2 separate regions of the Homo sapiens genome follow, and region 1 is linked to region 2. Evidence: fine-mapped expression QTL. A gene starts in region 2. The other region holds a variant in brackets. All regions are shown on one strand. Distances are from middle to middle.

Region 1 (5,364 bases), 43 kb before region 2:
ACAGAGGGACAATGTCACCAACAGTAACGTGACCACCTGGATCCTCCAGGGAGTTTATGACAGTACCGTCATAACACTCATTTACAGATGGGGAGACTGAGGCATGGGGAGGCTGGTGCATTTGTGCAAGGTCCTTCGGTTGGTGAGTGACACTTTGGTTGGTGAGTCACCTCTGGAATGCTGGAAGCCAGGATCCTGAGCCCTGGGTGACGCCGCCTGTCAGGGCAGAGGAGGTTCAAGGGCAAGAGGGAGCCCTGCTGCTCTTGGGGGGCTGGACGGGAGGGTGGCCCTCCTGGGTGAATCGGGATCATGGTGGTTCCTGCGGGGGCCAGCATTCCAACAGGAGTCTTTCAATTCCGTTGTATTTGGGGGGTTTCCTGGCCATAGCCTGCACCTGTCTAGCCAGCCCATTGTCCTGTTTCAAAGCCTCCAGGGTCCCACGGCCCTTGGGATAAAACTCAGCCCCTCACCACCCTCCATGGAGAAGGGTAACCTTCTCCATCCCCACCCTCCCTCCTAAGGCTGCCTGGGAAACTCATATACATCCCTCAGGCCACCTCCTCCGAGCAGCCACCCCCGCCTGCACCTGCCCCACTACAGGGAGTGGGGGCCAGGCTTGCCCAGGCCCAGCACCTGTGGCTAGCGCACAGTAGATGCCCTGGCCTGTGAATGGTGGAGTCGTTGGCAGCAGATTTAACTCAAAAGCACTTGGATCAAGGAGAAAGCTGCAGCCCTATCCCACTGAGAGGCGCCCCAGGGGCCCTGGTCTGCTCTGAGATGGCGTCCATGTCTCGGTGCCTCGTGTTTGTGCAGAGTCTAGCTCAGTGAGCTGAGGCAATGCTAAGGTGAGCCACGAAGTAAACGCAGGGGCTGACTGCCCTGAATGCTGACCTGAGGAGTATGAGCTCCACACTGAGGGCATTGGGGAGCCAAGGAGGGTGTGTGAGCTGGGGAGGGACACAATCGTATCCATAGTTGGAAAGACCACTCTGCTTTGTCCAAGGTCCCTGTGTTAATCTATGCAGCCTGCTATCACAAAACACCATAAACTCGAGGCTTATAAACAACAGAAAATGGCCAGGCATGGTGGCTCACGGCTGTAATCCCAGCACTTTGGGAGGCTGAGGTGGGACAATCGGTTGAGCCCAGGAGTTTGAGACCAGCCTGGGCAGCATAGTGAAACTTCGTATTTACCAAAAATAAAAAATTAGCGGCCTGGCACGGTGGCTCATGCCTGTAATCCCAGCACTTTGGGAGGCCAAGGCAGGCGGATCACCTGAGGTCAGGAGTTCGAGACCAGCCTGACCAACATGGAGAAATCCCACCTCTACTAAAAATATAAAATTAGCTGGGCGTGGTGGTGAATGCCTGTAATCCCAGCTACTTGGGAGGCTGAGGCAGGAGAATCACTTGAACCCAGGAGGCGGAGGTTGTGGTGAGCTGAGATCGCGCCATTGCACTCCAGCCTGGGCAACAAGGGTGAAACTCCAACTCAAAAAAAAAAATTAGCTGGGCCTGGTGGTGCACACCTGTAGTCCCAGCTACTGAGGAGGCTGAGGCAGGGGGATTGATAGAGCCCGGGAGCTGAAGGCTGCAGTAAGCCACGATCATGCCTCTGCACTCCAGCCTGGGCAACACAACAAGATCCTATCTCAAAAAAAGAAAGAAAAGGAAAGGAAAAGAAAAGAAAGTATAGGAAGGGAGGAAGGAAGGAAGGGAAGGAAGGGAGGGAAGGAGGGAAGGAAGGAAGGAAATAGGGTCTTTGCAGATGTAATTAGTTAAGAACAAGTCATAGTGGATTAGTGTGGGCCCTAAATCCAATGACTGGCGTCCTTATATAAGATGAGAAGACACACAGAATCCAAGAAGGCCATGTGCAGACAGAGACAGGAATTGGAATGGTGTGACCCCAAGCCAAGGAACGCCCAGAGCCCCCAGAAGATGAGGAGAAAATGAAGGATCCTCCCAAAGAGCTTTCAGATGGGGCGTGACCCCACCAACACCTTGATTTCAGACTTCTGGCCTCCAGAACGGTGAGAGAATAAATTCCTGTGGCTTTAAGCCGCTCAGTTTGTGGTCATTCGTTATGTAGCCCTAGGGAACCGATATGATTCCCCTCACAGAGAACCGGCAGAAGGAGCAAGTCCTGGCTTCAGGTTTGCTCCCATCACACGGCTTTGGCCTTAGCTGAGCCCTCTTGCCACAGCTTGACCATGGCCAGCTCCTGCACATGCTCCAGCTCTCAGCTCAAATGGCACCTTCTCAGGACCTCCCACCCCATAGCCCTTGACGAATGCTCACTCCCTATTCCCTAGCACTCTGCAGCATTTCACAATTATTTATTTTGAGACAGAGTCTCAACTGTCGCCCAGGCTGGAGTGCAGTGGCATGATCTCAGCTCACTGCAACCTCTGCCTCCCACATTCAAGCGATTCTCGTGCTTCAGCCTCCCCTGTAGCCGGGATTACAGGCACACGCCACCACACCCAGCTAATTTTTGTATTTTTAGTAGAGATGGGGTCTTGCCATGTTGGCTAGGCTGGTCTCCAACACCTGACCTCAGGTGATCCACCATCCTTGGCCTCCCAAAGTGCTGAGATTACAGGTATGAGCCACCACGCCCGGCCAAAAACCTGCTTTTTTTTTTTTTT[A/TTA]TCTTTAAGACAGTCTCACTCTGTCGCCCAGGGTGGAGTGTAATGGCATGATCTCGGTTCACTGATCATGCCTCACTCCTGCCTCAGCCTCCCGAGTAGCTGGGATTACAGGTGCGCACCACCACACCTGGCTAATTTTTGCATTTTTAGTAGAGACAGGTTTCACCATGTTGGTCAGGTTGGTCTCAAACTCCTGACCTCGTGATCCGCCCGCCTCAGCCTCCCAAAGTGCTGGGATTACAAGCGTGAGCCACCGCACCCAGCCAATTTTTGTATTTTTTTTTAGTAGAGACAGAGTTTTGCCATGTTGGCCAGGCTGGTCTCGAAATCCTGACCTCAGGTGATCTACTCACGTCGGCCTCCCAAAGTGCTGGGATTACACGCGTGAGCCACCGCACCCGGCCAAAACTTTTTAATGATGCTCTTGGAAAACACACACAGGAAGGCGGAAGTTAAATGTGTACCCAACTACGAAGTCAGATGAGGCAGGATCACACCCTGGCTGCCCCTCTGGTCACTAGATGCCTTGGGCAGGTAAGCTCACCTCTTCTGGCCTCAGTTTCTCCATCTGTGAAATGAGTGTAACATCTCATAGGCTGTGGTACGGACTCATGAATTGATGCATATAAAGCGTTCAGTAAGCCTTTTCTCTTAATAAAAAACCCACAAAACCATCATCAGCTCAAGATTCTATGCAAAGAGAAGACGGCACACCCAGCATGGGGTGTCCCTTGACGCTGCCAGACTCAAGTGACTTGAGGTTCCTGGCCTTTGAGCCCGCCCCTCCCACTCTTCCCTCGGCCAGGCCAAGGCTCCTCCAAGCCTCAGTTACCCTGTCTTTAAAAGAGCGCGCTCCTCTGATTCTATAGAATCCTGAGGCTCAAAGCCAAAGATGAACAGCCTGGAAGCAGAGCCATCAGAGCGGCAAAGCTGCCCAGGGATCCCCGAGAACTCGCTGGGGTTAGAGATCAGGACCCTGAGATTCAGGCTCTACACCTGATTCCTCGTGCCCCCGTCCGCTACGGGGCTGAGTTATGGGCATCGTTTGACATGGGCCACTCGGATTCCCTTCCAGGCCCTTGCCCGTGCCGTTCCCTCTGCCTGGCCACCGGATGAAGCAGGAAGACGGACTGCAAGTAGACCATTTCTAGCCCTGCCTAGATAAAGGCAGAGGGCGCAGTGAGGTCCTGCGGGACCCACTGTAGGCGGGGTTCAGGAGGCGGGCGAGCCCTGTCGGCTAGACCCCCAGCGGCCCCCGTAGTCGAGGTGCAGGCAGTGGGCGTGACCATCTCGGCATGACCCCCAGTGGCCCCCGTAGCCGAGGGCAACCGGTGGGCGCGGCCCTCTTGGCATGACCCCCAGCGACCCACGTAGCCGAGGTGCAGGCAGTGGGCACGGCCCTCTTGGCATGATACCCAGTGGCCCCCGTAGCCGAGGTGCAGACAGTGGGCGCGGCCCTTTCGGCATGGCCCCCGGCGGCCTCCGTAGCCGGGGTGTAGGCGGTGGCTGTGGCCCTCTCGGCGTGATCCCCGGCGGCCCCCGTAGCTCTCACCCGGTAGAGGCCGTACGTGCTCTCGGCGTGATCGAAGGGCACGAGGCGCTCGTCGCAGAAGCCCAGCGTCCAGCGCGCTAAGCTAGCTGGCCCGGCAGGGGCGACGGCGGCGGGTAGCTCGCGGGCTAGCATCGAGACGAGGCTCCCGCCCGACAGGCCGAGCGCGAAACGGGCGCGGGCCCCTGCCAGGCAGCATGCTGCGCGCTGGGCCACCAGCTGCGCTAGCGCCGCACCCAGCTCCTGGGAACTCGAGAACACCGAGATGAGGCCCGGGGCCGGCGCGGCCATGGCGAGGGCGGCGGCGGGGAGGAGGAAGCGCTCCCTACGGCCGTCGCTAGTACGCCTGCGCAAGGGCCGGCCCTGCCGCTTGGTTTCGAGTACTTTGGGTGATTGTCTTTGGCACATGCGCAGTGAGGCAAGTGAAGCACCGCGAAGGTCGGGCAGTCGGTCCGGCCCTACCCATTGAATCTTTGCCTGCTGTGCCTGAGTCGAAGTGAGTTCGGGAAGCCAGTGCCCGAATGCTCAACCTTGCTGTATCAGGGAGGGCCGGAGAGGGGAGCTCAAGAAGAGGACGTCCTATCGAGGTGGCAGGGATTTTCTGAAGGAGGGCGTATTTTGGTGAGTTTTAAAATTCCTGCACCGCCGGGCGCGGTGGCTGACGCCTGTAATCCCAACACTTTGGGAGGCCGAGGCGGGCGGATCACGAGGTCAGGAGATCGAGACCATCCTGGCTAACACGGTGAAACCCCGTCTCTACTGAAAACACAAAAAATTAACCGGGCGTAGTGGCGGGCGCCTGTAGTCCCAGCTACTCGGGAGGCTGAGGCAGGAGAATCGCTTGAACCGGGGTGGCGGAGGTTGCAGTGAGCCGAGATCGTGCCACTGCACCCCAGCTTGGGCGACAGAGCGAGGCTCCATCTCAAAAAAAAGTAGGGGATGAAAATATGCTTGTTGAATTTTTTTTTTTTTTTTTTTTACATTTTCCGGACGGACGGGCTCTTGCTATATGGTCTAGGCTGATCTTGAACCCCTGGGCTCAAGCGATCTTCCTGCCTCGGCCTCCCAAAGTGGTAGCATTCAGGCGAAAGCCACTGCGCCTGGCCATGCTTGTTGAATTTTTTAAGCTAACCCTCCTAGTGTGGTGGTGTGTCCCTCTGAGTG
Region 2 (5,364 bases):
CTCCCAAAGTGCTGGGATTACAGGTGTGAGCCACCGCGCCCAGCCGAGTTAATTTTTTATTAATGTAGCAACAAGGTGATCAGAAAATAAGGACCAACCAGAGGCCAAAATGTCATTGTAGCCCCAGGAGGGGGACAGCTTAGGTGTCAGACAAGCAGGTTTGAGTCTGATAAGACCTCAAAGCATGCCCATTCAACATAAAGGTGAATTGGAAATCAAAATAAGATCTTTCCTTAACATACACACACCAGGAGCTAAAAGGAAATTTGGTATCTCAGACCTTGCTGTTAGGAGGAAGGGGTGAAATCTCGATCGATGACTCATAACCTCACATGAGTTTGCAACTCCAACTGCACCATCTGGCTGTCTGAAAGTCAAGTAGACAATATGGTTCAAAGCAGTTCACGCTGGGCGCGGTAATCCCAGCACTTTGGGAGGCTGAAATTGGGTGATCGCTGGAGGCCAGGAGTTCGAGACTAGCCTGGGCAACGTGGCAGAACCACGTCTCTACAAAAAATAAAAAAATTAGCCAGGTGTGGTGGTGTGCACCTGTCATCCCAGCCACTTGGGAGGCTGAGGTAGGAGGATCGCTTAAAGCCAGGAGTTCCAGACCAGACTGGGCAATATAGCGAGACCTCATCTCTATAAAAAACATTCTATTAACTATCCAGGAGCGGAGGCAGGCGTTTGTAGTCCCAGCTAGTCAGGAGGCTGAGGTGGGAGGATTGCTTGAGCCCAGGAGATGGAGGCTGGTCCACCCTGGGCAACAGAGAAGACACCCTGTCTCAAAAAAAAGGGAGCCAGGCATGGTGGCTCATGCCTGTAATCCCAGCACTTTAGGAGGCCAAGGCAGGCGGACTACGTGATGTCAGGAGTTTGAGACCAGCCTGGTTAATACGGTGAAACCCCATCTCTACTAAAATTACAAAAATTAGCTGGGCATGGTGGCACGTGCCTGTAGTCCCAGCTACTTGGGAGGCTGACGCAGGAGAATCACTTGAACCTGGGAGGCAGAGGTTGCAGTGAGCCAAGATCGCACCACTGCACTCCAGCCTGGGCGACGGAGTGAGACTCTGCCTCAAACAAACAAACAAATGAGCAATAGACAAAAGGTAAGTGCAGCTAGGCGACAAAAGGGAAGTAAGCGGAGGCTGGGACATGGTCAGGGACCTCGTGCGCAATGCTCAGGAGTATGGCCTCAATTCTAATTCTATTTTTTTTTTTTTTTTTGAGACGGAGTCTCACTCTGTCGCCCAAGCTGGACTGCAGTGGCATGATCTCCGCTCACTGCAAGCTCCGCCTCCGGGGTTCACACCATTCTCCTGCCTCAGCCTCCCGAGTAGCTGGGACTACAGGCGTCCACCACCACGCCTGGCTAATTTTTTTGTATTTTTATTAGAAACGGGGTTTCACCGTGTTAGCCAGGATGGTTTTGATCTCCTGACCTCGTGATCTGCCTGCCTCGGCCTCCCAAAGTGCTGGGATTACAGGCGTGAGCCACCGCTCCCGGCCAGTATGGCGTCAATTCTAAGGGCAACAAGGAGCTATGGGAGGGTGCTGAGCAGGAAAATTCAGCAAAGGTTCCCAGAGGGAGAGCCTGCCCTGGCTAAAAGGGGTCCAGTATGTTCTGGGCAGCTTGAGCTTGACACTGCAAGTCTTTCTGAAGACCAGGTGAACATATGGATGGGGGGAGTGGCAGGTGGGCAGGGAACAGATGGTAGGACCTTGAGTGCCCAGCTAGGGGCTGAGTCTTCCTTCTGCCAAGGATGGGCTGGCCATGGAAGGTGTCTGAGCAGAGGGCACAGTCAGATTTCCACATCAGAACAACCAAGGAGCCGGGGGCAGGGGGCCATGGCATGCAGAAGGGGTGAGTTTTAGAAAGTTCAGAACCAGTCAACTTACGGTGGGATCTTTCCCATCTCCACACCCTCTGTGCCCTCCTTACAATGGGTTCAGTCCCTCTTGCTACTCCATCTTACAAGGAGCTGTGAAGGTGTTGAGCCCTGCCCCGCTAGCCGGCGCTCACCTGCTCCCACGTGGTGCTGTTCCTGAGGTCTGCTCTGATAGAAGCCCCCAGCAATGCCTGTTTCATCCCAGAAGGACCCCCAACGGCTCGTTTGAGCAAGTCCCTCAGAGACACCGCAAAAACCCTCCAAGGATCCTTGCACAGGACACCAGAATCTGCCCCCCTAGCATGAATCCAGTGTCCCAGTCTCCAGAAGAGACCCCCCAAACAAGTCCTGGAATACACAGCAGCCTCCCGACACACTCCGAACAACTCCCAAACCCAAAGTCCCACACAGACCCCAAAATCTCAAACAGTGCCCCAGCTGTAAACGATCCCGAGGAAACTCACACCTTCAGAAACCCGGGAAGTCCTTTATAGAGCAGCTCGCTCATCCCTCAGAGAAAGCCCTAGATAGACCCAAAGTGTCTTGGCAACCCCCCAGAGACTATCTATTGGGTCGTCCCTGTGAGCCCCGGTGACCTACTGGAGAGCCCCCTGAAGTCTCTCACAGTTATCACGGCTCCAAAAAGACCCCCACACCGCCACGGATTTCCAGTCAGCCCCAGCTCCCTGGAATTTCCACCAGTTGCCCAAAGACCCCCAAATTGCCCCCCAAATCCCCTGAGATCATCTCCTAAGCAGCCTGCAACGCCCGAAGCACCTTAGAGGCTACTCATCTTCCTCGAGAAATCCTTAAAGTGTCCCCTGTAGCCCCCTCAGAGACCCCCAACTGGTCACCCTCTCAGGCCCCGCCCCCGCCCAGCCCTCGGCCCAGCCCCGCCCCCAACCTACAAAGCACCCTCAGCTCTCCGGACCCTCCAAGCCGTCCCCGCAACCCAGCCCTGCACCGTGCGCCCCCAGAGCCCTCAGCCCCGCCCCCAGCCCTGGACGGATCCCGGCAACACTCACAAGAGGTCTCGCCTCGCGGTCTTGCAGACGATGCGCAGGAAGCGCCAGCCGCCGCTGCCCACGTACACGCCGAGCGCCGCTGCCGCGCTCCAGGTCCACGGCAGCCCCAGCAGCCACAACAGCGCCAGCGAGACCACCGAGGCCGCGCCCGCACCCGGAGCCCGCATCCTGGGGAAGCAGAGAGAGCTGAGGCCGCGGGCCGCTCCAGCCCCGCCCCACGACCCGCTCCGCCCCACGACCGCCCCCGCCTCTACAGCGAGCCGCGCCCCCAGGCCTCGGCTCTGCGCCCCCCGCGAGTCCGGGAACGCGCTCCGAGTCAGACTCCGCCCCCAGGCCTGGGATTGGTCAACTCCTCAGGCCAGGCATCGCCCCTTTCCAGGCTTTTACACCCGCCCGCTAACTAGGAACCAGACCAGGGCCCCAGGCCTGGGATTGGCCAGGTCCTGGCCAGGCTCCGCCCCCGGACCCTGGGTCCGCTCTATTCCATATTTTTGAGCCCATCCTTCCCTGCCAATCTTACAACAGTCCCCGCCCCCAGAGCCAGCATGTCCACCTTGTCGGTCACTGTCAGGCCTCGCCACATGCCTTCATCTAGCCTCTATCCTCGATCCCCGAATTACCCTTCACGTCCTGTCCCCTTTCCTCCTGGTCCTGCCTCTACCCCGTGGCCTTTTCACCACTCACTGGGCCCCGCCCTTAGGTTATGCTTCTAGCCCAGCCCACAGGTACAAGCCCTCTCCCCGAGTCCCGCCCCTCTCAGCCAGGCCCCACCCCCTAGGTTAGACATATGCCTCCCCACCCCCCCGCAATAAGCACACGCCCCACCCTCCCGAAACTAGAGCCCTCCCCAATCCGTTCAAGCCCCACCCCAGTTCCGGGCCTAGCCCAAGTTCCCAGGCTCAGGTTCTATCCTGGCCACGGGCCCCGCCCTCAGGCTTTGGCTCGGTCGCCACCTCCTGGGTTTCACTCCGGCCCCCCTAGGACCTAGGCCCCGCCCCTCTTCCCTCCTGTCTACTTCGAAGCCCCTCAGCCCGCAGAGCCGAGGCCGGCCGTCTTCCAGAAGCCACGACCATAGAGAGGCAACCGGACCGGAGAGGCGACGGCCAAAGAGACATGGGTGCTAGAACGGCCCGCCAGGGTCGTCCGCTGTCTCCATGACAACCAAGCCTTGCCCCACCCCCTCTCCTTTTAGGAAACACACGTGTCCTGCAGCCTTGGGGCGTGGCTCGCAAGATATCAGGACCCGAGCCCTAGTTGGCGTGCAGGATCTCTACCCCGGGGGACCAAAAATATCCCAGTCCACACCCACGGCCCGCGCGGGCTGTATTCTTGCTCCAGCTTGTCCTAAATCCAAGCCCCAAAGCCTCTTTCGGTCTTAAAAACACGTTCCAGGGCCCGGGGGAGTGCTCAACTCACACCATTGGGGCCTCAGAAGTCTCTAACTGTAAACACCGCCGCGGTCTTAACACGTGTGATTCAAGGACACAGCTAATTCTTAATCCATGTCCCGAAGCCTTGTCGGTTAAGTCTCACCGTCACACCCCAGGATCCCAGGGAGGACAAAATCCACACGCCAGGTCCCCATCCTTCCTAGAAGCACCTACAGGCCCTTTACTTGCACCCCGGGGTCCTAGATGCTCCCCCAGGCGCTGCCAGCGCTGGCCTGGGGGCACGCACAACCCCATTCTCTGGCTGACCTGAAGCTGCAAGCCGTGCCTTCAGTCTCCCAGAAGCTCAGGCAGGAGGCAGGCAGGGACTAGGAGGCTGAGGCCGGGGACCTTTCTGTTTCTGCAGACTCCTGGACCCTTCTTGGGTGCGCTGTGCCTACTGTGCGGGCTTCTGCTTTGGGGTCCTTCCCTTCCAGCTCCCCCTCCTCTGCCCCACTGCCGACTCCACCACTGCTTGTTTTCTGCTCTCCTTGGCCGACCTTTCCAGCGTTCTCCTTAGGAGGCGGCCCGGGCCTGATTCCAATGCATTTGGAGGACAGGGCTGGGCAGGCACTCACCCCCTACGCTGCCATTGGTCCCTGCGGGCAGCAGGGTGGCTGGAATGAGGGATCACGAGGAAGATCCGGAGGACAGGCCCAGAGCCAGCCACTGGCCTGCTGCTTTCTGGGCCTGGAAGAGTCAGCAATGACCAGTAACTGCAGTTGCACTCTTACCTAGCCAGGTAGCACCGCTGTGATCACCCCATTTGACAGGTAAAGAAACTGAGGGCAGGCTGGGCGTGGTGACTCACGCCTGTAATCCCAGCATTTTGGGAGGCCGAGTTGGGTGGATCACTTGAGGCCAGAAGTTCGAAACCAGCCTGACCAACATGACGAAACCCCGTCTCTACTAAAAATACAAAAATTAGTCAGGCATGGTGGAGCACACCTGTAATCCCAGCTACTCCGGAGGCTGAGGGAGCAGAATCACTTGAACCCGGAAGGCAGAGGATCCAGTGAG

Which allele goes with the higher level. Positions count from the first base shown, and alleles are read on the strand shown. Sizes are in standard deviations (SD) of each study's normalised expression.
As copies of A replace TTA in region 1, the expression in monocytes after LPS of the gene that starts at base 3,101 in region 2 goes up (large effect, 0.88 SD a copy in Fairfax 2014).

The links.
Region 1: its variant is fine-mapped to the expression of SLC27A1 in monocytes after LPS (Fairfax 2014, PIP 0.94).

The regions. Positions count from the first base shown.
Region 1 is chr19:17,510,800-17,516,163 of GRCh38, reverse strand. It overlaps PGLS (6-phosphogluconolactonase), which reads right to left and starts at 4,515. Exons shown (of 5, transcript NM_012088.3): 1 at 4,204-4,515. The coding sequence starts at 4,491. It overlaps PGLS-DT (PGLS divergent transcript), which reads left to right and starts at 4,275. Exons shown (of 3, transcript NR_147835.1): 1 at 4,275-4,821. RefSeq lists enhancers at 3,042-3,697, 3,528-3,787, 3,750-4,044, 4,538-4,787, 4,355-5,011 and 1 more and silencers at 3,750-4,044, 4,288-4,337, 4,348-4,477. The variant A/TTA (reference allele first, on the strand shown) is at 2,652.
Region 2 is chr19:17,468,261-17,473,624 of GRCh38, reverse strand. It overlaps SLC27A1 (solute carrier family 27 member 1), which reads right to left and starts at 3,101. Exons shown (of 12, transcript NM_198580.3): 1 at 2,918-3,101. The coding sequence starts at 3,084. RefSeq lists enhancers at 1,984-2,485, 3,907-4,036 and a silencer at 3,027-3,156.